7 linked regions of the Homo sapiens genome follow. The protein of the gene in region 1 purifies or fractionates together with the protein of each later gene. This does not show direct contact. Each region holds a gene or a part of one and is shown in the gene's direction. Other genes may lie near its edges. The genes, in order: GRK5, TOR4A, SMARCA1, SPIN1, MYO1C, MYO9B and LYZ.

Evidence for each region.
Region 2: the proteins of GRK5 (region 1) and TOR4A purify together in Homo sapiens (affinity purification with mass spectrometry, with the first as the bait; one large-scale study listed by BioGRID). This does not show direct contact.
Region 3: the proteins of GRK5 (region 1) and SMARCA1 purify together in Homo sapiens (affinity purification with mass spectrometry, with the first as the bait; one large-scale study listed by BioGRID). This does not show direct contact.
Region 4: the proteins of GRK5 (region 1) and SPIN1 purify together in Homo sapiens (affinity purification with mass spectrometry, with the first as the bait; one large-scale study listed by BioGRID). This does not show direct contact.
Region 5: the proteins of GRK5 (region 1) and MYO1C purify together in Homo sapiens (affinity purification with mass spectrometry, with the first as the bait; one large-scale study listed by BioGRID). This does not show direct contact.
Region 6: the proteins of GRK5 (region 1) and MYO9B purify together in Homo sapiens (affinity purification with mass spectrometry, with the first as the bait; one large-scale study listed by BioGRID). This does not show direct contact.
Region 7: the proteins of GRK5 (region 1) and LYZ purify together in Homo sapiens (affinity purification with mass spectrometry, with the first as the bait; one large-scale study listed by BioGRID). This does not show direct contact.

What each region holds. Positions count from the first base shown.
Region 1 is NC_000010.11:119,448,571-119,452,070, forward strand, and holds part of GRK5 (G protein-coupled receptor kinase 5), read left to right. Parts: intron 1-3,500. UniProt on the Homo sapiens protein: Serine/threonine kinase that phosphorylates preferentially the activated forms of a variety of G-protein-coupled receptors (GPCRs).
Region 2 is NC_000009.12:137,276,227-137,280,525, forward strand, and holds the start of TOR4A (torsin-4A), read left to right. Parts: upstream 1-1,499; 5' UTR 1,500-1,681; intron 1,682-2,426; 5' UTR 2,427-2,463; coding exon 2,464-3,735; 3' UTR 3,736-4,299.
Region 3 is NC_000023.11:129,485,491-129,488,990, reverse strand, and holds part of SMARCA1 (SWI/SNF-related matrix-associated actin-dependent regulator of chromatin subfamily A member 1), read left to right. Parts: coding exon 1-54; intron 55-1,853; coding exon 1,854-1,973; intron 1,974-3,500.
Region 4 is NC_000009.12:88,391,444-88,394,943, forward strand, and holds part of SPIN1 (spindlin-1), read left to right. Parts: intron 1-3,500. UniProt on the Homo sapiens protein: Chromatin reader that specifically recognizes and binds histone H3 both trimethylated at 'Lys-4' and 'Lys-9' (H3K4me3K9me3) and is involved in piRNA-mediated retrotransposon silencing during spermatogenesis.
Region 5 is NC_000017.11:1,482,687-1,486,186, reverse strand, and holds part of MYO1C (unconventional myosin-Ic), read left to right. Parts: intron 1-55; exon of another isoform or gene 56-132; intron 133-426; exon of another isoform or gene 427-475; coding exon of another isoform or gene 476-493; intron 494-612; exon of another isoform or gene 613-1,062; coding exon of another isoform or gene 1,063-1,065; intron 1,066-1,883; coding exon 1,884-2,039; intron 2,040-2,461; coding exon 2,462-2,577; intron 2,578-3,127; coding exon 3,128-3,326; intron 3,327-3,500.
Region 6 is NC_000019.10:17,194,277-17,197,776, forward strand, and holds part of MYO9B (unconventional myosin-IXb), read left to right. Parts: intron 1-279; coding exon 280-1,197; intron 1,198-3,500. UniProt on the Homo sapiens protein: Myosins are actin-based motor molecules with ATPase activity. Unconventional myosins serve in intracellular movements. Binds actin with high affinity both in the absence and presence of ATP and its mechanochemical activity is inhibited by calcium ions.
Region 7 is NC_000012.12:69,347,055-69,351,180, forward strand, and holds the start of LYZ (lysozyme C precursor), read left to right. Parts: upstream 1-1,326; 5' UTR 1,327-1,354; coding exon 1,355-1,490; intron 1,491-3,053; coding exon 3,054-3,218; intron 3,219-4,126. UniProt on the Homo sapiens protein: Lysozymes have primarily a bacteriolytic function; those in tissues and body fluids are associated with the monocyte-macrophage system and enhance the activity of immunoagents.

The sequences.
Region 1 (3,500 bases):
ATGCCTCCCACCTGCCTGGGAGATTTGAGGGTGAAATGAGAACTGAATGGGGAATGCTTTCAAGAGCATTGACGGCCACTACATTCAGTTCATCTTGACCAGCATGCATGCATCGAGCACTACTGTTGACGCCAGGTTCTGGGCCAGGCAGAAACATAAGAGGCCCCTCCCCCAGCAGCTCACATTGCAGGGAGTTGCATCTTCCCAGGAGGTCCCCAGGTCCCCCAGTCGGTGTGTGAGGCAAGATTCCAGCTGAGGTAGAATTGTCCTTGAAAGTCCCCTACATGGTCTATAAATCATGAGCTCTCAGCTGGATCAGAGGCCCAAGAGATGCAGACCAGGCAGAGGCTGGGTGATCTGTGCGGGATACGTGCTGTGATTCCGGGGCCTGCTCTGTTTAAAGTCAGGGAGTCAGAAGCCAGGAAGGCCTGCTGTGCTTCGGCTCCTGCCACGCTCCCGCGGATGACCCCTTGCTGGCAGGGGGACTGGGCCGGGGACTATGGAGGCCGTGGGAGCAGCAGTGTGCTGCAGGCGAATGACTGCATCTCCAGAGAGCTCATGTGCACCTCTCTTCCCAATTCCGTGTCCAATGGCTTTGCGTCGGTAGCTTACAGTAGATCTGGTGGTAGCATCTGCACAGCAGCAATTTGCAAATGCTACAAATCAGGGCCTCTGCGTCCCCCTCTCCCAGAACCAGTGGTTATCACTTACCAGTACCGCCCTGAGTGGAGGCAGGTGGGGACCGTCCTTGGAACTCTGGCACCCCCTATACATGGGGATTCCCTGGTCCTCTGGGACAGAAGGTGGCTTGGGAAGCTGCTAGGTGCGGATCAGTGTCCATGGCAACCACACCACAGACCCCGTCTGGCCAGGGATGGCATCAGTGTGATGGGTAATCAGGGAATGCTTTTTGGAGAAACACGGGGGCCACTGAGAATATAAAGAGTAGGCCGGGCACGGTGGCTCATGCCTATAATCCCAGCACTTGGGAAGGCTGAGGCAGTCGGGTTAGGAGTTCGAGACCAGCCTGACCAACGTGGTGAAACCCCATCTCTACTAAAATACAAAATTAACCAGGCTTGGGGGCACACACCTATAATCCCAGCTACCTGGGAGGCTGAGGCAGGAGAATCACTTGAACCCAGGAGGCAGAGGTTGCAGTGAGCTGAGATTGTACCACTGCACTCCAGCCTGGGCGACGGAGCGAGACTGCATCTCAAAAAATAAAAAGTGAAAGTCACTGAATGCTGCAAACTCAATCTGCAGATGAGCTTGAGCAGGCAGGGGGAGGATGGTAATCACAGCATTGCTCTCGACCCTGGCTGCCTGGCGAACCGCCTGGGGAGCATGAACAACACTCGCCTTGGATGCAGTCCCCAGGGAGTCTGGGGTAAGACTCGGGCTTCAGGAGTTTTGAAACCTCCCCAGCTGATTCTAGCGTAGAGCCAGGGTTGAGAGTCACTATTATGGGAAGTGCCACATGCAAGGAGTGTGTTGTTTGTTGTTTGTTTTTAGTGCCAAGGGCTTTGGGAGTGGCCACTCCTTGGTGTTCCAGGAAACCACATAGTGTTGAGTGCATGAACATCACGGTTGTGCCATTGGGCTGATGTCCGAAATTGGAGAGGATGTGGGCATCCAGACTGGGGGTGTGGCAAAGGTTTGGAACCCGGGTGGCCATCCTTGTGGCCTCTGGGCTACCTATTGCTATGGTGACGGGCTGAGATTAGTCATCGCATTGGAGCTATTCCTCTACCTTCCAGCACACTCCAGGTCCCGTGCCAGGCCCCAAGGGAGATCCCATGGCACACAAAACAGTTGGTTGTTTCCAGTCTGAAGAGGAGCAGGGGTGTCAGCAAAACCCCTTAAATAGAAGTAGAAATACGAGTCACAAGAGAAGAGAACAGGCAGCCTCCGGGAAGATGGGAGAGTAGCGGGGCCTCCGTGCGTGCACCCAGGCATGGCTGGAGAAAAGCGCTCCAGGCCCTGGAAGCAGCATGTGGAAGGAGGCGGCTCTGAGGGTCAGAGCGACCAACTGTCCTGCTTTGCCTGGGACTGTCCTGCTTTTAGCACTGAAAGTCCTGTGTCCTGGGGAGACAGGGACAGTTGGTCACCCTGGGAGTGACCCTGGCCACTTCGAATCAGGGCATTAGGAGGATGAGGTAGCAGAGCCCCGCAAAGCGCACAGCCTGACAAGGTGCACAGAGCAGCCCACCGGTGCCCTCCTGCCTCAGCCGTGTACCCTGTGGCCCAGGGCCTCTGTTCCTGGCATCCGAGGCCTCAGGTCAGCAAAGGTTGCAGGCCCTGGAGTGCGAAGCCGCTGTGAGCTGGGGACTTTGCCTTTTCCCCACTGGCCCTCCCCAGGCTGCACGCCAACCCCCAGTCATCCCTGCCAGCCCCCCACAGTCATCCCGCCCCCCACAGTCTTCCCTGCCAGCCCCCCACAGTCTTCCCTGCCAGCCCCCCCAGTCGTCCCTGCCAGCCCCCCACAGTCATCCCTGCCAGCCCCCCACCATCGTCCCTGCCAGCCCCCCACCGTCGTCCCTGCCAGCCCCCCACAGTCATCCATGCCAGCCCCCCACAGTCATCCCATCCCCACACCACTGTCGGGGCTGCTGCCACATTCCTAAACCACGAGCACTGTGAGTGACATCATCTTTTTCACTTCCATTGACTCTTTTTTTAAAATAAAAATCAATGTATTTTAAAAGGAAACCTTTCCAAGGAAATAATAGCCATGAAAGAGGGGTTTGGGTGTGCCAGGTAACTTTCTGTTCCATTACAGATTTTTAAAATACGCTCATTTCTTAACATTCCTCTGCAAGCCACCCAGGGCCAGCTTCGTGAGCTTGACCTGGCACCCCCTAGGGCACCCTGGGTCCCCACACCTGGCTCAGTGCCCTCTGTTGCCATCTTAAAATTCTAAATGTGGAACATGGACCCTGCGTTTTCATTCTGCGCTGAGCATGTGAATGATGTGGTCTTGCTTCCAGCTAAAAGTCCGCTGAGTTCCACGGTGGCGTGCACCCCGGGCTTTGGGAACTAGAGAAGGGTCGCAGCTCTGCAACTGGACACCCCTGCCCGCACCCCTGCTTCCGTCCACGTGCACTTGGGCCCATGGTTTGCTTTGCTGGGGACAGCATGGCCTTGAGCCTTGAGCTGGAGACCAGAGCAGACTGGAGGGGAGAGTCCCAGAAAGTGCCGAGCCCTGAGACCATTGCTAGAACCTTCCTGGCATGGCGGAGCCCATGCTGAGCCGGTGCACTGATTCACAACCTTCGTATTAGCCAAATGTCAGGAGACTATAAGCAGGAGGTAGCCTCTACCCTCCAGTGACAGATGTGTCACCAGGTCTGGGGATCCCTTCACACCCCACCTGGGGCTGTCTCTATAAAGGCCTCATCTCCAGAGGCTCTGGGAAGCCTCCCCACACCAACCTTGAACTCTTAGAGGGCAGGGTCCACCCAGGTTCATCTCTGCCCTGGCATAGAGCAGGCCCCCAG
Region 2 (4,299 bases), on another chromosome or scaffold:
TGGGAGAAAGTGCAGGGGGTGAGGCCTTGGCCCAGGCCTCAGATTCACCTTTGACCCATAGGGCCAGGTCTTGGGGCACCCCTTGAGCGAGTCCCTTTCCTGCAGAGGGCTCTGGCCTGAGGATTTGCTGGGCCAGCCTCTGGCAGAAGCAGCTCCAGCCCTGGGTGCACTTGGAGGCAGGGCAGAGGCTTTGCTGCAGGTTTTCCAGGGCTCGGTCAGCCTGCATCTGCCCGAGGGCCTCCCCTCCAGGGTCCTCTCTGTGTCAGAAGAAGCACCGAGACTCAAAGCCTGAGGCCCCCAAAGGACCCCAACCTCCGTGCTGGGGCCACGGGGCCTGGACAGCCAACCTCCTTCCGCTCTGGTCCCACAGAGGCCGGGGAGTGGGCCCAAAGAGCACCAGCATTCCACCTGGTGTGTGCGGCCCCCGCGGCCTCGACAATTGGGGATCCGGGCCCCCGAGCACCCCTTGCACAGGGGAGGGGAGCCCTAGGCCTGGCTCCTGGAGGGGAGCGTGATAGTCCGGTGGACCCCATACCCTGGAGAGAATGGAAACCCCCAACCCACGACCGGTTTCCCTGATGGAGCCTGTCTGGTTGGGTGCAGTGTGTGAGGAATATACAGCTGGAACCATCAGGCCCGGGCTGGCTGTTGGGAGGAGTGGGGCGTCCCTGGGACTGCGGGGTCCTGAGCTGAATGCCAGCAGCACTGGTGTGGCTGGAGCGGCCACCTTGCCCCTCCTTGGAAGGCGGCTTCCAGGCTGGGCCAGGGTAGGAGGAGTCCAGGGTCCTTTAGGCAGGCCGGCAGGGGGAAGGGCCCAGAGCTCCAGCTCCTGGCTCCCGGCCCAAGTTGTTTCTAAATTTGTTCCCCAACCCCCACAGGGACCCTGAGCCGCACGTGGTTTTTTCCGTGATAGAACTTCCGTCTGTGTGTGCTGGCCTGTCCTGGGCAGGGGGCTCCAGGCTGGGGACGGAGGAAGGGGGAAAGGAAAGACAATGAGCCCACTTTGGGGGGCCCCCGATTGGGGTCAGGAGGGGAATGAAAAAGCGGGGAGAGGAGTAATAAGAGAGGGATTGGGGGTATGCAGCTCGGCAGAGGACCCTGCCCGCCCCCTGTGCTGCTGCCTTGCTCCCGCCTTGCTTACACAGGGCCTGGAGCCCCTCCCCCCAGCTGTAAGCCCTGTGTGTGGGGTGACAGGTGGAAGGGATAACCTGGGGGAGGTGGGGGCCCTGGAGGACAGGCTGAGGTGCAGGAGCCCAGGGTGGGGGCACAGCATGCAGCAGGGGCCCTCGGCCTCACCAGGTGTCCTGAGCCTGACCAAGCCAGGAGGGCTCTGAGCGCTAGAGAACTGAAGCGGGAATGTGACCTCCGGCCAGGGGATCTGGGCAAGCCGGCCAGGCCTCCCCCCTTTGGCGCCTCCGTCCAGCCCAAGTCCCGCCTGGGCCGCACCCCCTGACTCACTTCCTTTGCATAGAAGCGGAAACCTCCCCAGAGCTTCCTCTACTCCGGCCGGCCGCTCCCTGGGGACCCACAGGTGTCGCTGCCCCTCCAGGCCGAAGCTGGCCCAGGAGGCCCCTGGCCCACCCCCTCGCCCTGGGAGGCGCATTTCCTGCTTGGAGTCTCAGGCCCCAGCGTCTGGCACAGGCAGGGGCCTGCGGAGCTGAGGGCAGTGGACCAGCTGCAGGTAGGGGGTGGGTTGGGGCCCAGGGCCCAGTTCCTGCCAGTCAGTGGCTCTCTTGCTCCGACCGGCCTCTTCTTTCTGTCCATCTTTTCGTTTCACCTCCACTAGTCTCCGGGGGGCTCCCTGCACTGCTCAGCTCGTTCACTGGAGGGGTGTTGGGAGGACCCCAGTTTTGGAGTCGGGGCTGGGAGGCCTGGGTTGAGCCTGGGGACGGGGCCCGGGCCTATTCTCAAAATCATAAGTTCCAGCCAGACCCCCGCCAAGTGTTCTGGAGCGTGTGGGGGCGTCTCTGAACTCCTGGGCGCTCAGGCCTCTGCTTCCCGCGGCCCCTCCTTGGGAGACGGCCCAGTCCAGTGGGAGCCGCGGGCGGGGGCAGGGTCCGGGGGTGACTGTTCACCCCAGTGGGCGCCTGGGCGGCCACTGACTCCTTCGACGACTCCTCCAGGAAGCCGGGGCGGCCACCAGATAAGCCTCTACCCCGCCACTTCCTCAAGGCCCGCGGCCGTTTATGGGAAGACCCGAGAGATTTGCATCGGGGCCCTGCGGAGGGGCGGAGGGGCGGAGGGGCGGAGGGGTCGCTTGCCGGTCTGAGGGGCGAGGCCGCGACCAGGCCCCTGGCCCTGGGGCAGCCCGGGCCGCACCCCACGGGACTCCCAGGGGGTAAGATCACTCCGGGGACCGGTTCCGGCGGCCCGCGGGAAAGGGCAGTGGCGGGAGTCCAGAGACCCTCCCCGTCTTCCCGTTGCAGGGAGGGCGACCTGTATGCGGAGCGCCGTTCCTGCGACATGGACCGCGGCCAGCCCAGCCTGGAGCCTGCTGCCGCGGCCCCCCGAGCCTCGGGCCGGTGCGTGATCGCGCCCGTGCGCGCTGTGCTCCGCCTGCGCCGCCGGGTGTGTGTCCTACGCAAACGGCGCCTCCTGCAGCCGGGTGGGGGGCCCGACGTCGGGACCGGGGCGCCCAGGCCGGGCTGCAGCCCCCGGGCACCGCGCGCGGACCTGGACCAGCCAAAGTTCTTCACCTTCGACAGCCCCGCGGAGCTACCCTCCAGGACGCCACGCAAGAAGCGCCGGCGCAGCCGCCTGGTGCTTTACCCGGAGACCTCGCGCAAGTATCGGCCGCGCGTGGAGCACAGGAGCCGCGCGCAGCGCTGCCTTCTGCTGCTAGTCGCCATCGTGGGCTTCCAAGTTCTCAACGCTATCGAGAACCTGGACGATAACGCGCAGCGCTATGACCTCGACGGGCTGGAGAAAGCGCTGCAGCGCGCGGTGTTCGGCCAGCCCGCTGCCGTATCGCGCATCGTGGCGCTGATGCGGGACTACCTGGCCACGCATGTGCACAGTCGTCCGCTCCTCCTGGCGCTGCACGGGCCCAGTGGCGTGGGCAAGAGCCACGTGGGCCGCCTGCTGGCGCGCCACTTCCGCTCGGTGCTGGAGGACAGCGCGCTCGTGCTGCAATACCATGCGCGGCACCACTGCCCCGAGGCGCGCGCCGCACAGGACTGCCGCGAGGAGCTGGCGCGGCGCGTGGCCGACGTGGTGGCGCGGGCCGAAGCGGAGGAGAAGACCCCACTCTTGGTGCTGGACGACGTGGAGCTCATGCCGCGGCCGCTGCTGGACGAGCTGCACGGCTTCCTGCAGCCGCAGCGCTCCCACCACTTCCACAACGCCATCTACGTGCTCCTCAGTGGCGCGGGTGGCGCCGAGGTCACGCGCTTCGTGCTGCAGAACGCGTCCCGCGCGCTGCCCCTGCGCCCCGACGGCTTCCGCAGTGCCGAGGCCGCAGCGGCGCAGGCGGAAGAAGACCTGCGCGCCAGCCTGCTGGCTGTGCTGTCCCGGGAGCATCCGCTGTGGCAGGCCGCGGCCATCGTGCCGTTTCTGCTGCTGGACAAGCGGGATGTGGTCAGCTGCTTCCGGGACGAGATGGCGGGTGAGGGCTTCTTTCCTGACCAGGCCCGCGCGGAGAACCTGGCCGCGCAGCTCAGCTTCTACCGCGTGGCTGGCCGCGAGTTTGCCGTCACCGGCTGCAAGCAGGTGGTGGCCACGGTGAACCTCCTGTAGTGGAGGCGCAGGACGGGACGTTTGGGTTGATGGCGGCAGTAGGAGGGCGACCAGGGACCTTGTGGGCTGGTGCAGGCCCCTGAGGTTTCTAGTGAATTTGTGGCTGCCCGGCTGGTGGGTGCGGATCAGCTTGGAGCTCTGCTTCCAGGTCCACACCCGCCTCAGAGTCCGGAGTCTGTCCCTGGGGGCGGCAGGACAGCAGCCACCTCCCTCCCAAACTTGCCCATTGCCCTGCTGGGCGTCCCAGGCATGGTCTGGTGCGTTCTCCCTGTGGCCCCAAGAGGTGGGTTCCCATGGTACAAGGATGATCTCAGGGCCAACAATTCCCGGGGTCACACAGCTGGGACGTGACCCCGCCTCTTGGGGGTGGTCGCGTGTTGCTCAGTGCTGAAGTGGGGTTCTCATTCCGGCCCCCCTGGAGATGACCCCGGAGGAGGCCACAGCCAACCATGACAGTGCTGGGGCTCTGGCTGCCTTCTCCACCCACCCCACCCCTCACTCAGGTCGTGTTTTCAGGAGCTCAAGGCTGGAGTGTCTTGACAGTAAGGGGAGGGGAGCGGAGGC
Region 3 (3,500 bases), on another chromosome or scaffold:
AGTGAGTTGACAGATGAAGACATTACAACTATTCTGGAAAGAGGGGAAAAGAAGGTTAGTTAAAATAGCATTTTATTTTCATGCTGGATTGTTTTAATATCAACATACTTCAGCATACTTATATTTTCATTGTACATGTTTATCTGCATTATCTACATGTTTCAGGTAGCTCATATTCTCTCCAACAACTTGTAGATCTATTTCCAGGGGTAGATTAAGGCTTTAAAACTTTTTTTTGGTGAGAAAGACTAAGAACCAGAGTTTAAAATTGAGTGACCTTATATCTAATGCTTTATTGAAAATACTATATCTAAAAGCCAAGTAAATTTTGTGTTTAATCACATGTATAAGGAATGCTTTTTTTTTTTTTTTTTTTTTTTAAAGAGACAGGGTTTTGCTCTGTCACCCAGGCTGGAGTGCAGTGGTGCAATGATAACTCACTGTAGTCTCCACCTCCTGGGCTGAAGTGATCCTCCCACCTCAGCCTCCTGAGTAGCTGGGACCACAGGCATGTACCAACATGCACATCTAATTAATTTTCTTTTTTAGAGACAGGGCCTTGCTGTGTTGCCCAGACTGATCTTGAACCTCTGGCCCCAAGTGAGCCTCCCACCTCTGCCTCCCAAAGCACTGAGATTATAGGCATGAGCCACCATGCCTGACCAGGACTGTATTTTTATAATCTTTTTTTTTTTTTTTTTTTTGCACTGGACTAGAAATCATCTACTGATACATTGGTTAATTGAAAATCTTTTATAAAACATTTCATGAAATGCTAAATCACTATTTGTTAAAGCATAATAAGTTGTTTCAGAATATTGTAATTTTGTGTTTAGTTCACCTTCCCCTCTCCACAAATTATGGATAATTTTAAACATAAGTAAAAGTAGACAGAGTAGTATAATGAGCCCCGAAGTACTTATCACCTGTTTCTAACAACCATCAACCAGTCCTGTTCTGTCTATATCCCCAGTTATCTTTCCCCTCCTTGGATTATTTTGAAGCAAATCTCAGACATACTTCAGCTGTAAATAGTTCACTGTGTATTTCTAAAATAGAAGGACTCTTTAAAGATAATCATTATAACATTGTCTCACCTGAAAAACCCCAATAATTCTTTAATAACACCAAATATCCAGTTAGTATTCAAATTTACAATTGTGTCGTAAATATTTATACTTAAAAAGTTTTCTTTTCATTTTTAAATCAGAATGCAAATCAAAATACAAATTGCCATGGTTGAGATTTCATCTCTATCTTTTAAAATCTATAGGCCCCCTCTCCTGCCATGTATTGTATTCCTTGTAATTTATTTGATGAAAAGACTAGGTTGTTTGCCTTTTGAGTTAATCACAGTGTGGATTTTGCTGATTTCATCTCCATGGTGTATTTTACTATGTTTGTTGCATATCTTGTAAACTGGTTGAATTTGCTTTTCAGAAGAATTTTGTAGTTCAGGTAATAACCTGCATTTTAAATGATCTTGTGTTAATATGTTTCATACCAGTATGCAAAATGTGTATTTTTAGTCCATCTTTGCCTTTCTCTTAGCTTTAGCTATTTGTCCCATTTAAATTATGCAAGAGCAATTATAATGTGGGTACAACTTCACTGACAAAAGATTTTAAAGAAAGCCTAAGTGAGAGTACTTGGGAAGCACCATTTAAATATTTGAAATACTTGGGCAAGTAAAATTTGCACTTCAGGTTTGATGTTAGCATTGCATTCATACCTTGTAAATTAGCAGACTGGATATTTCATGTCAAAACCTGACTATTAAAAAGGTAGAGAATCCACAGACTTTTACAAGTAATTCAGTGATAATTTTCTCATTTCAATGTTTTCACCTTTAGACTGCAGAGATGAATGAACGCCTGCAAAAAATGGGAGAGTCTTCTCTAAGAAATTTTAGAATGGACATTGAACAAAGTTTATACAAATTTGAGGGAGAAGATTATAGAGAAAAACAGAAGGTAACTTTTTACTCTCAACCATTAGACCCTCAAATGAGCATTTCTCCCCATAACAATTATAAAATAACACTGGCACTTACCTATTATAATACCCTGCTCTAGAGTGAAATTTGATATAGGTCTAAATATCTCATGCAAGGTATATCTTTCGTTTATTTTATTGGTTTATCGTCGTCGTCGTCATCATCATCATCATCATCATCATCAATTTTTGCTGTTGCTGCTGCTGCTGCTACTACTACTACTACTGCTTAGTACTACTTTTGTTATTGAGAAGCAGTGTAGGATTGAGGTTGAATTCCTGAATTCTGGAGCTGAAATCTCAACTCTTGTCACTAATTAAGTGACTCTGGGTATTCTCAATTTTCTCATTTATCAAATGGAGGTTATAATAGTTACATCATAGAGGGATTCTGATGATGAAATGAGTTAATACTCATAAAGTTATTAGAATAATGCCTGACACTTAATGTTAACTGTATGAATAATAATATTAGTAACATTTAGTTACTTAAATGCAGAAGGACTTTGTTACATGTGGTCTGTTGAAGAAATGGGGGTTTTATTTATCTTGTTTTTTAAACTGAAATTAAGGCTGAGATTTTAAAACTTTTTATTTTTAAATTACTTTAGACTTACAAAATAGTTGTAAAAATAGTACAGAGCTAACCTATAGCCTTCACTCAGCTTCCCCTAATATTAACAATTTACATGTTAGTATAATGATCACAACCAGGAAATTAACACCAGTTTTTCTCCTAATGTCCTTTCCTGTGCCAGGAAAAGGACATTGGTTAATTATCTAATTAACTGGTGTTAGATTCCAGGGGATCTAATCTAGTATCCCACAGTGCATTTTTAAAAAAATAGACTTTATTATTTTTTCCTTCTATTTTTAGTTGACACATACTAATTGTACATATTTATGGGATACAGAGTGATATTTTGTTACATATATACAATGTGTAATGATCAAATCAGGGTAACTGGTATATCTACTGTCTTAGCACATTTGTGTTGCTGTAAAGGGATACCTGAGGCTTGGTAGTTTATAAAGAAAAGAGGTTTATTTGGCTCATGGTTCTACAGGCTGTAAGAGAAGCATGGTATCAACATCTGCTTCTGGTGAGGGCCTCAGCCTGCTTTCACTTATGGCAGAAGGCAAAGGAGAGCTGGTGTGTGCAGAGACCACATGGCAGAGACAGAGAGAGAGAGACAGTACCAGAGAGAGGAGGGAAATGCTAGGCTCTTTGTCAGGAACTAATAGAATGAGAGAACTCACTCATTACCTCGAGGACTACACCAAGCCCTTCATGAGAGATCTGCCCCTATGACCCAAACACTTCCTATTGGGCCCCACCTCCAACACTGGGGATCAAATTTCCATGTGAGATTTGGAGGACAAACATATCCAAACTATAGCATTCTGCCCCTGGCCTCCCAAATCTCATGCCCTTCTCACATTGCAGATTATAATCATTCCATCCCAATGGTCCTCAAAAGTCTTAATTTGTTCCAGCATCAGCT
Region 4 (3,500 bases), on another chromosome or scaffold:
TTGAATGGTTCCCTTCTTGATTCATTCTGAACTCTCCCTTTGGCCCAGTGTCTACTAGTTTTTCAAGCCAAGAACATCTGTTGAGTAACAGGTATCTCAATTTTGCCATACTTCCTTTCTGCATAGGTAGCAGCGTTCTTACTTCTACTCCTGAGGCAAGCCATCTCTGATGTCCTGGAAGGTCGTTTCTCTTCTATCCAGTTGTTGGGATGAATCTTCTGGTAGAAGGGAAGGGAATTTGGTACTAGGGTTGAAAGTCACGCTACTGAAGTTCTTTATTGACATCTCTGAGCAGAAGAGAGGCCCGAGTCGTCCTGGGGATTTTCTTCACTGAGCATTTGTGAAGATTCTGGGGTCAAGGTTGGGTTAAACTTTTGTGGTGGGTCCATCCGCGGTCTAGTCAACAGTACTAAGCTCTTCCTGCATCTTTGGGACCCAGCGGGAAGTGATGCCAGCTCTCAAATTGCTACAAGGTATCCTGGAAAGAAATCTATGACCCAGAAAGAGCCTGAAAACCCAAACTCCAGCAAATATTGGTGAAAGAGCCAACCCGCAAAGCCTTTTAAAACCTTGAATTCCTTACCTATAAACTGGGATAAAACCTATGGTGTAAGTCTGTTCTGAGAATTACATGAAATGGATTTATAGAGTTCTCAGTACAGTTCCTGAAATACAGCAGCTGACGCCAGTAGATGTTGATTTCCTTCTCCTTTCTACTTTTGAACTTAGCTGTAGTTATTAGCATTTTTTTAATGTTGAGGTAAACAGTTTCCTTAGTTGTGCATCAGTATTCAGTCCAATTTAATGTTAAATTATGTTTTTACTGGGAGCCTGTTCATGACCTTAAAATTGCCGTAAACCCTTTATAGAACAAGTCGTGTTTGGCTAAATATATAAACACAGATGTATCCTTACAGACTTTATAGTCTGATAGAGGAGATACACATGCATATAATGAGGGAATTCTGTGCTGAAGGTATCTGGGAAGAGAAGGTGATTCCATAGATTATCAGAATGGGAGAAGAAAGACATCTGGATGGAGGGGAAAGCAGGAACAGAGGCATGAGAGGAGTTAAAGAGGCCATCGGGGATTTCAATCCCAGCCAAAAGTTAGCCCCTTGTTACCTGTCTCCTCTCCTCTCCTCTCTTCTCCTTCCTTCCCTCCTTCCTTCCTTCTTTCCTTCCTTCCTTCCTTCCTCCCTCTTTTTCTACCTATCTACCTAGCTACTATTTTCTATCTATCCTCCTTTGTGAGTGTGTTTATGTATAGCAGGGGACGAGAACACCTACCTCATCAGGGGTGAGCTTAAATGAAGTAAAATGTTTCATAGGCTCCTGGTGTACAGTAAATGCCCAGTTGATATTGATGATGATGTCACCACTGCCTACACCACCTGTAGTTTCTTTCCTATGGCTGATCTGTCTAGGGATGAATTTGGGGGCCACCTTTTAAATTCTGCATGTAACATTAAGGTGGTTGGTGTTGAATTTGTAGGCAGAGGGAAACCATTGAAAGCAGGGGCAGGATTGGACCTGTGTTTTAGAACAGTATGAAAGGTGAGTTGGAGGAACCTGCCCATGTAGGATCTTTAATCTCCAGAGTCTAGCCTGTTAGAGAAGCTGGTGAAGTCATTTAAGGCATGGGGTATTGGTCTGAACTCAGAATATTTAATGTTATGTTAAATGTGCTTTTTTTTTTTTTTTTCCTGAAGGGAGGGGAGGAGGAAGAATTTACTCAATGTAAATATTATTTTATCCAAATGGTGAGAGAATACATGAAAAGACTAGTAAGGCATCTTTTTACCATTTGAGATGTTATAGTAGCGTGTTAACAAAATAGGCAATTTTTTTTTTAAAACTAGGTTATATTTCTTTGTAGTTGTTTATGCTTGGGCCTGTCTGCAAATGATTTAACAAATCATATCATATATTTGAATTACTGTTGCTTAACCTGACACAGGCAATAAGGAGAGAAAAGAATGTCCTTTTTCTTGCTTTTGGGTTTTTTTTTTTTTTTTTTTTTTTTTTTTGAGACGGAGTCTCCCTCTGTCACCAGGCTGGAGTGCAGTGGCGCAGTCTCAGCTGACTGCACCCTCCACCTCCCGGGAGTCAAGCGATTCTCCTGCCTCAGCCTCCCGAATAGCTGGGTCTACAGGCATGTGCCACCACACCTAGCTAATTTTTGTATTTTTAGTAGAGACGGGGGTTTCATCATGTTGGCCAGGATGGTCTCGATCTCTTGACATTGTGATCTGCCCGCCTCGGCCTCCCAGAGTGTTGGGATTACAGGCGTCAGCCATCTCTCCAGAGCTGATTTTTTTTGGAGGGAGGGGTTTGAATTACTTTTTTCTTTCTCTCTTTAGCATCATTGTAGACCCATGGATTTTTATGTATCCAATGTGTGTTTTTGGTTTTTTAAATTTTGAGACAGTCTTGCTCTGTCACCCAGGCTGGAGTGCAGTGGTGTGACCTTGGCTTACTACAACCTCCGCCTCCCGGGTTCAAGCTATTCTCCTGGCTCAGCCTCCCAAGCAGCTGGGATTACAGGCGTGCACCACCATGCCTGGCAAATTTTTTGTATTTTTAGTAGAGATGGGGTTTTACCTTGTTGGTCCAGCTGGTCTCAAACTCCCAAGCTCAAGTGATCCTCTCACCTCAGCCTCCCAAAGTGCTGGGATTACAGGTGTGAGCCACCATGTGTGGCTTTATCCAGTGTTTTAATCAAATACTCACTGTTTTTCCTTAGCTTTTCACAACTTGGACATGTTGAGGTCCTTTCAACCTGGTTCTCTTTCCTTTGACATGACACGTAATCTCTGAAGCTTTTCTTGCTTTCTGACACAAGATGTCTAAGGTTCACTTTGTGCTTTTCCTGCCAAATACCTATCAACCGAGTCTTTCAGCTTGCTTTATTGAGGATTAGAATTTAGATACAGAAATCTGGGTGTTATATGTTCTTACTGTTAGAATGCCCATGCTTTTATTGGACAGCCATGGGAAGCATACAGATTTTGATTTTTATATTGGTATTTCCAGTTCGAATTTAACATCACAGAGTTTTTACTATGAGCTTATCCTTTTTTCTCTAACGTTGAAAATTTACATTCTTAGCAACATTAATATAATTGCATTATCTTACAGTATAAATGTAGTTTGAAAATAACACTAATAAGCAACTGTAGCTTTATGTTTGGTTATGGTTTTTTCCTTAAAATATATCCACATAAGCATGTACAGTTGACATTCTAATTTGGAAGGCCATTTGAAAAGATTTTCTCTGATTATGTTATATGTTTGATAATTAATTTGGGTTGTTTGCCTGAAATTCTTCCTTTAAGAATTGCTTTAGTTTTTTATTTAATGTATTTTTTTTTTTTTTTTTTTGAGACAGAGTCTCGCTCTGTCGCCCAGGCTGGAGTCCAGTGGTGCGATCTCGGCTCACTGCAAGCTCCGCCTCCCGGGTTCACGCCATTCTCCTGCCTCAGCCTCCTGAGTAGCTG
Region 5 (3,500 bases), on another chromosome or scaffold:
TTCTATTTTTAACTTTCCCGGGACTCGAGTTCGGGGGTTGGGGGAGGAAAATCCCGCTTCCTCTGGGACCCGCAGGCCTCGGTGCCCGCCCAGCGCCCAGGCCCGCCGCGGAGTGTAGTCCCAGGCCCGGAAGTGAGTTCCGGGTCGGTGTAGACGCGGCGGCCGCGCGGGTTCCGGGCTCCACCCTGGTGCCAACGGCGTCCCTCCTGGAAAACCTGACTCAGGCGGAGCCCGCCCCCGCCCCCGGCCCGCGGACCCCCCGCCCCGACACCCCCACCTCCACCAACCCCACCTGGAGGGGACCCCAGCCCGGCCGCGCGGGAGGCGGGGGAGGCCGGGGAAGCCCCGCGCTTCAGGGGCCCGGGTGGGGGCGGTGCGGGGGGCGGGCCCTCCCTCGCTGACGCCGCCGCCACCGCCGCCGAGCCCGGGACCCGGAGCGCGGGCAGCGGAGCGGGCGCCAGGCCGGCCGGGCAGGATGCGCTACCGGGCGTCGGTGAGCCTGGGGGCGGCGGGGCAGGGCGGGGGGTCCCGGGCGTCCCTCCCCACCTCGCGGCGTCGCCTCGGCCTCGCCAGGAAGCGGGCGCGGCCCAGGAATTCCGGGTGGAAAAACGTCCCGGGAAGTTGCAGGGGGAGGAGGCCGAGGCGGGGAGGGCGGCGCGGGACGCTCGGACCCGGGGCCGGATGAGGAGCCGCCGGGGACGCCTGAGAACGCGGAGACCCCTGACCCGAGGGCGAGGGGGCGGGGACCGCGGCCGGATTTGGCAGCCGCTTCGGCGCGGGATTGGAGCGGGGCGGTGAGGACAAGCCTGGGAGGGGCAGGCCCCCGGCCAGAAATCTGGGCCTTTCGTGGTCAGAGGACACCGGCGGCCCCTTTGGGATCCACCCCCAATCACCACCACCTTGTTCTTCTCTGACCCTGGATACTCTGGGTGTCCATTTTTTGGAGCCCTGAGACCCTGTTTGAAGAGGGATCCATCTCAGCCCTGGTTGTGGGGCGAGGGTCTTGCTCAGCCTGCACCACCCTCCACCCTCCAGTAGGACCCAGAGGCAGCTGGGCTTTCCATGGTAAAGCCCCCATCCCCTGAGGCTTCTCAGGACTCTCAGTGGAGGAGGTGCCTGGGGAGCCCAGCAGCTGGAGGAAAGGGAGTGGCCCCAGCCATGCGAGGGAGGGCCTCCCCCGCGTTCTGGAGTGGGTGGCTGAGCCCAGCTGGGGTGGGAGGCCCTCTGGGGGAACCCCTCTGGTGTAGTCTGGGAGTAACCTCTTGCTTGGTGCTCGACGCTCTACCGGTGGAGGTGGGGGTGGGTCTGGGTGGGAGAGACGGCCCCACCCTGCCTGCAGAATTGACCCTGAGCCATTTGTCCTCCAAAGCACCTGTCACACGTGGCTCAGAGCTGAGGGACCTGAGGTCACCTGGTCTAACTCAACTCCTCCTCCTTTAGGAGGAAGGAACCAGAGAGAGGAGGGGATTGGTCCAAGCTCAACAGAGCAGTCTTTCTGCTATTTCAAGGAGTTCCTTCTTGTGACCCCCCCTTTCTCCACCCAAAACCAGCACCTCCCGGGTTCTGCCCTCTGGTCCTGCCTGCGTCCATGCCCTGTGTCCGAGTCCCAAGTGGTTCATGTTGTCTCTGTTCTGTGCCCGCAGCCTCGGTGATCCCTCTGCTGCCACACTGGGACCCGGGCCCTCCACACCCGGCTTTCCGCACCCGGCCCACCACACCCAGGCCCTCAGCACCCAGGCCCCCCGCACCCGTCATGCTCATGTCCCGTGTCTAGCCCGGAGTCCACAAGCCCCTACGTTCCCTCTCAGTCCCACAGGCGCAGGGAAGTGGCCTTGCCCCGCCCCCGATGACTCTGACCCTCTTCTGTGGCCCATTCTCTGCAGGCCCTGGGCAGTGACGGGGTTCGGGTGACCATGGAGAGTGCGCTCACCGCCCGTGACCGGGTGGGGGTGCAGGATTTCGTGCTGCTGGAGAACTTCACCAGCGAGGCCGCCTTCATCGAGAACCTGCGGCGGCGATTTCGGGAGAATCTCATCTACGTGAGGCCCTTGTGGGGAGATGGCAGGGGTGCTGGGGTCACAGACACAGGCAAGCGGAGGGGAAAGAGACACCAAGGGTCACCGGGATAAACTTTTTTTTTTTTTTTGAGACAGTTTCACTCTTGTTGCCCAGGCTGGAGTGCAGTGGCGCGATCTCAGCTCACTGTAACCTCCTCCCCCCGGGTTCAAGCGATTCTCCTGCCTCAGCCTCCCGAGTAGCTGGGATTACAGGCACCCGCCACCACGCCCGGCTAATTTTGTATTTTTAGTAGAGACGGATTTCTCCATGTTGGTCAGGTTGGTCTTGAACTCCCGACCTCAGGTGATCCGCCCACCTTGGCCTCCCAAAGTGCTGGGATTACAGGCATGAGCCATCGCACCTGGCCCGGGATAAACTTTGGACCCTCTTCCCCCGATCCCAGACCTACATTGGCCCCGTCCTGGTCTCTGTCAATCCCTACCGGGACCTGCAGATCTACAGCCGGCAGCATATGGAGCGTTACCGTGGCGTCAGCTTCTATGAAGTGCCCCCTCACCTGTGAGTGACCCCAGCCCCTCCGGGAGCGACCCCTCTGTCTCCATCTGAGGTGACCCCGCCCAACCCTTACCTTACTCTGAAATGATCCTGGCGTCCCGCGCCACATCTGTGAGGAATCCCACAGTCTCTTGCCCCCCAGTGACCAGAGATGAATGTCGCAACTCAGCTCCATGTGGGTGGGACTCAGTCCCTACCCCGACTCACACCCATGACTTATTCCCCAACTGGGAGTGGCCCCCCAATCTTAGTGACCTCTGAACCCCACCTGCAAAGACCCCCCCCAGCCCTACCCGTGAGTGACTCCAGCCTCCACCTAAGTGACCTCCAGCCTCCCACCTGTGAGAGCCTCTCAGTCCTCCCGCTGGCGGTGACGCCCATTCTCAGCTATGACGGATCTCCCATGGCCCACACCTGTGAGGGACCCCCAGTCCCCATCCTCAAGGGTGTATTCGACTCCCACAAGAGGACTCCACCCAGATGTGGGAGCGGGACTCTCGTGGGGCTCTGCTTGGCCCCCCTCCCCAAACTCCCTGACGAGCCTCCGCCCCAGGTTTGCCGTGGCGGACACTGTGTACCGAGCACTGCGCACGGAGCGTCGGGACCAGGCTGTGATGATCTCTGGGGAGAGCGGGGCAGGCAAGACCGAGGCCACCAAGAGGCTGCTGCAGTTCTATGCAGAGACCTGCCCAGCCCCCGAGCGCGGAGGTGCCGTGCGGGACCGGCTGCTACAGAGCAACCCGGTGCTGGAGGTGAGGGGCAGGGAGAGAAGCCCAGTGCCAGTGCGGGAGGGGAGGGGCAGGGAGAGAAGCCCAGTGTGGGAGGGGAGGGCAGGGAGAGAAGGCTAGTGTGGGAGGGGAGGGGAGGGGCAGGGAGAGAAGCCCAGTGCAGGAGGGGAGGGGAGGGCAGGGAGAGAAGCCCAGTGC
Region 6 (3,500 bases), on another chromosome or scaffold:
AATAGAACCCACCCACCACAGCCCCAACAAGGGTCCTCTCCCCTAACAAGGCAGCCAGGCAGACGCAGGGCAGGGGTATCTGTGACACTGAGGGGGCACCACCCTCAGCCTCCTTTCCTGATCGAGGAGATTCCTGCTTTCCAGAAGCATCTCTCAGGGCCACTGGGCACAGGCGAAGCCCCGTCTGCAGCCCGCAGGCTGGGGGTCCCATCGGAACTCAGTGGGAGGTGGAGGGAGTGTTTGTTTCTGAACCAGCTGTCTGCTTTTTCCTCACTCCAGCTTCAGCCAGATGATCTCGGAGAAGCAGAAGGCAGAAGAGAAGGAGAGGGAAGCCCTGGAAGCCGCAAGAGCAGGTGCTGAGGAGGGCGGACAGGGTCAGGCGGCTGGAGGGCAGCAGGTAGCTGAGCAGGGGCCGGAGCCAGCGGAGGATGGCGGGCACCTGGCATCGGAGCCTGAGGTGCAGCCAAGTGACAGGTCCCCCCTAGAGCACTCCTCACCTGAGAAGGAGGCCCCAAGCCCAGAGAAGACTCTCCCACCCCAGAAAACCGTGGCGGCTGAAAGTCACGAGAAAGTCCCCAGCAGCCGGGAGAAGCGTGAGTCGCGTCGGCAAAGAGGGCTGGAGCACGTCAAGTTCCAGAACAAACACATCCAGTCCTGCAAGGAGGAGAGTGCCCTCAGAGAACCTTCCAGAAGGGTCACCCAGGAGCAAGGGGTGAGTCTCCTGGAAGACAAAAAGGAGAGCAGAGAAGATGAAACCCTTCTAGTCGTAGAGACGGAGGCTGAGAACACATCTCAAAAGCAGCCCACAGAGCAACCCCAGGCCATGGCAGTTGGCAAGGTCTCTGAAGAAACTGAGAAGACGCTGCCCAGTGGGAGCCCCAGGCCTGGCCAGTTGGAGCGGCCGACCAGCCTGGCCCTGGACAGCAGGGTCAGCCCACCGGCCCCTGGCAGCGCCCCCGAGACCCCCGAGGACAAGAGCAAACCATGTGGCAGCCCAAGGGTTCAGGAAAAGCCCGACAGCCCCGGAGGCTCCACGCAGATCCAGCGGTACCTGGACGCCGAGCGGCTGGCCAGCGCCGTGGAACTGTGGCGGGGCAAGAAGCTGGTGGCCGCCGCCAGCCCTAGTGCCATGCTCAGCCAGTCCCTGGACCTCAGCGACAGACACCGGGCCACAGGGGCCGCCCTCACGCCCACAGAGTAAGCCCCACACCCTCTTTTGTCTGAGCACCAGGGTCCAGGCCAGGTGGGCAAGGCCAGGGGCAGTGCCACACATCCTGGAAACACATGTGTAATCATGCCCAGTGGGTGTGCGGGAGGCCTGAGGGAGGAGGACGAGCAGGACATGCTAAAGACCAAGTGAAGACAAGGCAGCCAGCCAGGGCCCAGGCTGGGACCTGGAGCCTTGAGGGGTCCCCAGAAGGAGCTGTGCTCACACAGAAAGGCCCCGGCCTTGAGAGAGGTGGCTCCTCAGGTCAAGGTCCCTGCTGCCCAGAAATCTTGGGCCTTGGTTTCTAATTGGTGAACAGGACTAACTGCACTCCTCGGGGTTAAAGGAGCAGGGGCTTGCTCTGCCTGAGCCTTAGTAAGCCAAGTGTCAGTGACTTGGAATCTCCAGCTCCCTCTTCCAGAGGGCCTGCAGGACCAAAGGAAAGAAATCAGGGAGGAGACAGGCCTTCCCTGCAGCAGGCCTGCTCAGCCTCCCACTGCTCGTATTGGGGGCCAGATCATTCTCTGCGGTGGGGGCTGTCCTGTGTATCATAAGATGTTGAGCAGCATCCCTGGCCTCCACTTACCACATGCCAGGAGTATTATCGATAGATGATGGATGGAGGGAGGGAGGGAGAGAGAGAGAGAGGGAAGGATGTGTGGGTGGGTGGGTGGGTGGGTGGATGGATGGAAGATAGAGATGATGGAAGGATGGATGGAAGGAAGATAGAGATGATGGAGGGATGGATGGATGGAAAATGATAGAGGTGATGAATGGAAGACAGATATAGATGATGGATGGATGGAAGATACACATGATGGATGAAGGGATGGATAGATAGAAGACAGGTAGTAATGATGGATAGAGGCATGGATGGATGGATGATACAGATGATGGGGAGATGGATGGATAGAAGATGGGTAGAAATTAGGCTGGGCGCGATGGCTCATGCCTGTAATCCCAGCATTTTGGGAGGCCAAGAGTTTGAGAGGAGTTCGAGACCAGCCTGGCCAACATAGTGAAACCCTGTCTCTACTAAAAATACAAAAATTAGCTGGGCGTGGTGGCGCATGCTTGTAATCCCAGCTACTTGGGAGGCTGAGACAGGAGAATCGCTTGAACCTGGGAGGCAGAGGTTGCAGTGAGCCGAGATCAAGTCACTGCACTCCAGCCTGGATGACAGAGATGAGACTCCGTCTCAAAAAAAAAAAAAAAGTAGAGATTATGGATAGAAGGAAGATAGATGCCGACGATAGATGGATGGAAGGAAGATAGGTAGGTAGAGACAATGAATGGAGGGATGGAAGATAGGTAGAGATGATGGATGGCTGGGTGGGTGGATGGATGGATGGATGGACAGACAGAAGGATGGGTGGATGGCTGGAAGATAGAGATGGAGAGATGGAAGGAACATAGAGTTGATGGATGGAGGGATGGATAGATGATAGGTAGATTATGGATGGGAGGAAGATAGAGATGATGGAGGGACGGATGGGTAGAAGATAGGTAGAGCCGGGTTCGGGGGCTCACACCTATAATCCCAACACTTTGAGAGGCTGAGGCGGGTGGATCACCTGAGGTCAGGAGTTTGAGACCATCCTGGCCAACGTGGCGAAACCCCGTCTCTACTAAAAATACCAAAAATTAGCTGGATGTGTTGGCGCATGCCTCTAATCCCAGCTACTCGGGAGGCTGAGGCAGGAGAATCACTTGAACCTGGGAGGCAGAGGTTGCAGTGAGCCGAGATCACACCATTGCACTCCAGCCTGGGCAACAAGAGCAAAACTCCGTCTAAAAAAAAAAAAAAGATAGATAGAGATGACAGATGAAGAGATGGATGGAAGGCAGATAAAGAGGATGGATGGGTGGAAGATAGAGACAATGAGTCAATGAGTAGAAGGATGGATGGATGGATAGATAGATGATAGATAGATAGATAGATAGATAGATAGATAGATAGATAGATACATAGATAGATAGATGGGCAGGCAGGCAGGGTCTCTTGGGCTAAGGCAAGGTTTCCTACCCTCCACACTCAACATCTGGGGCTGGCTCACTCTCTGGGGTGGAGACCATTCTCTGTAGGGTATTGAGTAGCATCCCTGCCCTCCACTCACCAGAGGCCAGAAGTACCCACCCACTCCTTTCCCCCCACCCAAGTGGTGACAACCAAAACTGTCTCTAGACATTGCCAAGTGTCCCCTGGCAGGGGCAGAACTGCCCAAGTGAGAACCCAAGAACCACTAAGACAAGAAAATGCCACTGACTCACTCTAGTCAGTAAAAGCCATGTT
Region 7 (4,126 bases), on another chromosome or scaffold:
AGGCATGAGCCACTGCACCTGGCCCTATTTATTATTGAAGAATCAAAATTAGGCCTAGCCTGAAAAATGAGATTATTCTTGATTTTTGAACAGGGTCCTTGAACTGTCATTTAAAACCAAATCTGGTAATCTTTAGAGGCCACTGATGAAAAATAAGGGTAACTACAAAGTGATGACACTTTGTGTGGCTCAGAATCTGTCCTCTTAGGCAGATACAGAAGTGCAGTTCTTTTTGAGTTCTGGTAGCATTGTTTTAAAAGCTGTGCACAGCCTCCTGAGATTGCTATTTTCAAAGGTAGCATTTAGTTGGATATATGTTTGGGTAGGTTTTATTTTTAAAATGCTGTTGCTTTCTAATGACCCCTTATGTTCTAATATGGAAAGGGGAGGCAAAGTATTGTGAAAAGTAGTTGGTAAAGTAGGCCGGATGTGGTGGCTCACACCTGTAATCCCAGCACTTTGGAAGGCCGAGGCGGGCGGATCACGAGGTCAAGAGATCCAGACCATCCTGGCCACATGGTGAAACCCTGTCTCTACTAAAAATACAAAAATTAGCTGGGCATGGTGGTACATGCCTGTAGTCCCAGCTACCTGGGAGGCTGAGGCAGGAGAATTGCTTGAACCCGGGAGGCAGAGGTTGCAATGAACTGAGATTGCGCCACTGCACTCCAGCCTGGTGACAGAGTAAGACTCCATCTCAAAAAAAAAAAAAAAAAGGTAGTTGGTAAAGTTGTTCACATGAACCTTATTTATAATAGTAAAACACTGATTTATAATAATAAAAAATTTGCTATAGTAACAAAAAGAGTCTAGAGTAAGAAACTAGCTGAGCAACGTGGTGTCACACTATACACCCATTAAGACAACAGGCACATGTGTCATGTCCATTTTGTGGAAAAGATATGTAAAATAATTTTAAGTAAAAAAGATAAATATAAAAAAGTGAATGCATACAAAACAATTTCACAAAATTGAATGTTACTCAAAAATCACAGCTCATTTTAAGCTGCACAAAATAGTCATTTTTTTCTTTATAATTGCTCAAATTCATAATCAAACAGAAGAAAGTTCCTGTCTTGGAAGTAGTGCTATGCCCCAATTCTTCCAGAGCCAGTACTTTAAACAATTCCATTTCATTATTTTCCTGTAGACTAATTCTTAGGACATCAGCATATCTCTCTTCAAGCATTAAAAAAATCTCTTTAGAGTCAGTGGATCAATAGACAGTTCCTGTTTTCCACACAACTGAAAGGGTGGAGCCCCCAAACCACAAGGGGAAGAAGGAAGTTAAAAGATGTTAAATACTGGGGCCAGCTCACCCTGGTCAGCCTAGCACTCTGACCTAGCAGTCAACATGAAGGCTCTCATTGTTCTGGGGCTTGTCCTCCTTTCTGTTACGGTCCAGGGCAAGGTCTTTGAAAGGTGTGAGTTGGCCAGAACTCTGAAAAGATTGGGAATGGATGGCTACAGGGGAATCAGCCTAGCAAACTGTAAGTCTACTCTCCATAATTCCAGAGAATTAGCTACGTATGGAACAGACACTAGGAGAGAAGGAAGAAGAAGAAGGGGCTTTGAGTGAATAGATGTTTTATTTCTTTGTGGGTTTGTATACTTACAATGGCTAAAAACATCAGTTTGGTTCTTTATAACCAGAGATACCCGATAAAGGAATACGGGCATGGCAGGGGAAAATTCCATTCTAAGTAAAACAGGACCTGTTGTACTGTTCTAGTGCTAGGAAGTTTGCTGGGTGCCTGAGATTCAATGGCACATGTAAGCTGACTGAAAGATACATTTGAGGACCTGGCAGAGCTCTCTCAAGTCCTTGGTATGTGACTCCAGTTATTTCCCATTTTGAACTTGGGCTCTGAGAGCCTAGAGTGATGCAGTATTTTTCTTGTCTTCAAGTCCCCTGCCGTGATGTGGGATTTTTATTTTTATTTTTATTTTATTTTATTTTATTTTTAAAGACAGTCTCACTGTGTGGCCCAGGCTGGAGTGCAGTGGCATGATCTCAGCTCACTGCAACCTCTGCCTTCTGGGCTCAAGTGATTCTCGTGCTTCAGCCTTCTGAGTAGCTGTGACTACAGGTGTGTACCACCACACCCAGCTAATTTTTTGTATTTTCAGTACAGATGGGGTTTCACCATGTTGGCCAAGCTGGTCTTGAACTCCTGGCCTCAAATGATCTGCCCACCTCAGCCTCCCAAAGTGGTAGGATTACAGGTGTGAACCACTGCACCCAGCCGACATGGGATTTTTAACAGTGATGTTTTTAAAGAATATATTGAATTCCCTACACAAGAGCAGTAGGAACCTAGTTCCCTTCAGTCACTCTTTGTATAGGATCCCAGAAACTCAGCATGAAATGTTTTATTATTTTTATCTACTCTACTTGATTAACTATCTTTCATTTTCTCCCACACAATTCAAGATGTGCCATGAGGAAAAGTTATTTTATAGTTTAGTACATAGTTGTCGATGTAATAATCTCTGTAGTTTTCAGATTGAATTCAGACATTTCCCCTCAATAGCTATTTTTGAATGAATGAGTGAAGGGATGAAATCACGGAATAGTCTTGTTTTCAAGATTCTAACTTGATATCCAAATTCACCTTTAGATATTATAAGAAAATTTCTATCAGAAAATCCTTATGTTTTTCTGATTAAAAAAAGCATTTTTCCATCAGCCTATGTATCTGCTATGAATTTACAAAATCTACTCAACAGCTCTGTTGATTTTTCTGTTCTTGGCTGAATGTTGCCTGAGGGATGGGAGCACGGGAAGGGTAAAAGCAATGGAACAAACATGTATTTTAATATTTTAAAAGTATGTTATATTGTTCGTTGGTGTTACAAGATGATTTGCATTACAAAAGGATTCTCTTACAAGTCCCTTATCTTAACACTAAAGTGCTAAGATATTTTATAAGTAAATCTTTATACTTATAAAACAAATCAGTAAAATAGAAGTAGCTAAGTAGAACTGATTTTGCTATAGAGTATAAGTCACTTAGTGTTGCTGTTTATTACTAAAAATAAGTTCTTTTCAGGGATGTGTTTGGCCAAATGGGAGAGTGGTTACAACACACGAGCTACAAACTACAATGCTGGAGACAGAAGCACTGATTATGGGATATTTCAGATCAATAGCCGCTACTGGTGTAATGATGGCAAAACCCCAGGAGCAGTTAATGCCTGTCATTTATCCTGCAGTGGTAAGACAAGCTAATATTTGACCAATCTGGTTATACTTACAAGAATTGAGACTCAATACAAATGAAAAAGCCTTGAAAGGTTCATGAGGGACCTAGAAAAACTACATCTCAACTTCCAGAAAGTCATTATTATTTTCCTCATAATTCCCTGAGTAAGAAATTAAAGAAGTGGTATCATAAAAGGTTGATGTTTTTTAATATACAGAAGTTTCTGGAATGACCTATTAATTTACTGTCAATGGCCTTACTGATGCTTTGTCCAGAACAATGCCATTGCTCCTGCTTACTTTGGGGAGGTTTTGGGATAATTTAGTTGTATGGTCCTTTTTCAATTGTTTTACTTTTTTTTTTATGAAATGTTCTAAATGTATAGAAAATTAGAGACATTAGTATAATAAACAGCCATATGCCCATTATGCACTTTAAAAGTTGTTAACATTTTGCCATAGTTGCTTCTTCTATGCCTTTTTTTTTTTTTTTTTTTTTTTTTTTTTTTTGCTGAGAGTTTTTTGTTTGGTTTTGTTTTGTTTTATTTTGAGACAGGGTCTCCCTGTCCCCAGGCTGTAGTGCAGTGGCACCATCACAGCTCACTGCAGCCTCAAGTGATCATCCCACCACAGCCTCCCAAGTAGCTGGGACTACAGGTGTGCACCACCATGCCTGGCAAATTTTTGAAATTTTTAGTACAGGCAAATTCTGTGTTGCCCAGGCTGGTCTTGAACTCCTGAGTTCAAGCAATCTTCCCACCTCAGCCTCCTTAAGTGCTGGAATTACAGGCGTTAGCCACTGTACCTGGCTACTGCTGAGAGACTTTTAAGTGAATTAGGAACATGATGATATTCCATTTCTAAATTCTTTAGTTTACATCTTCAAAAAATACAGTTCCTGTAGAATTATTATTGTAAATA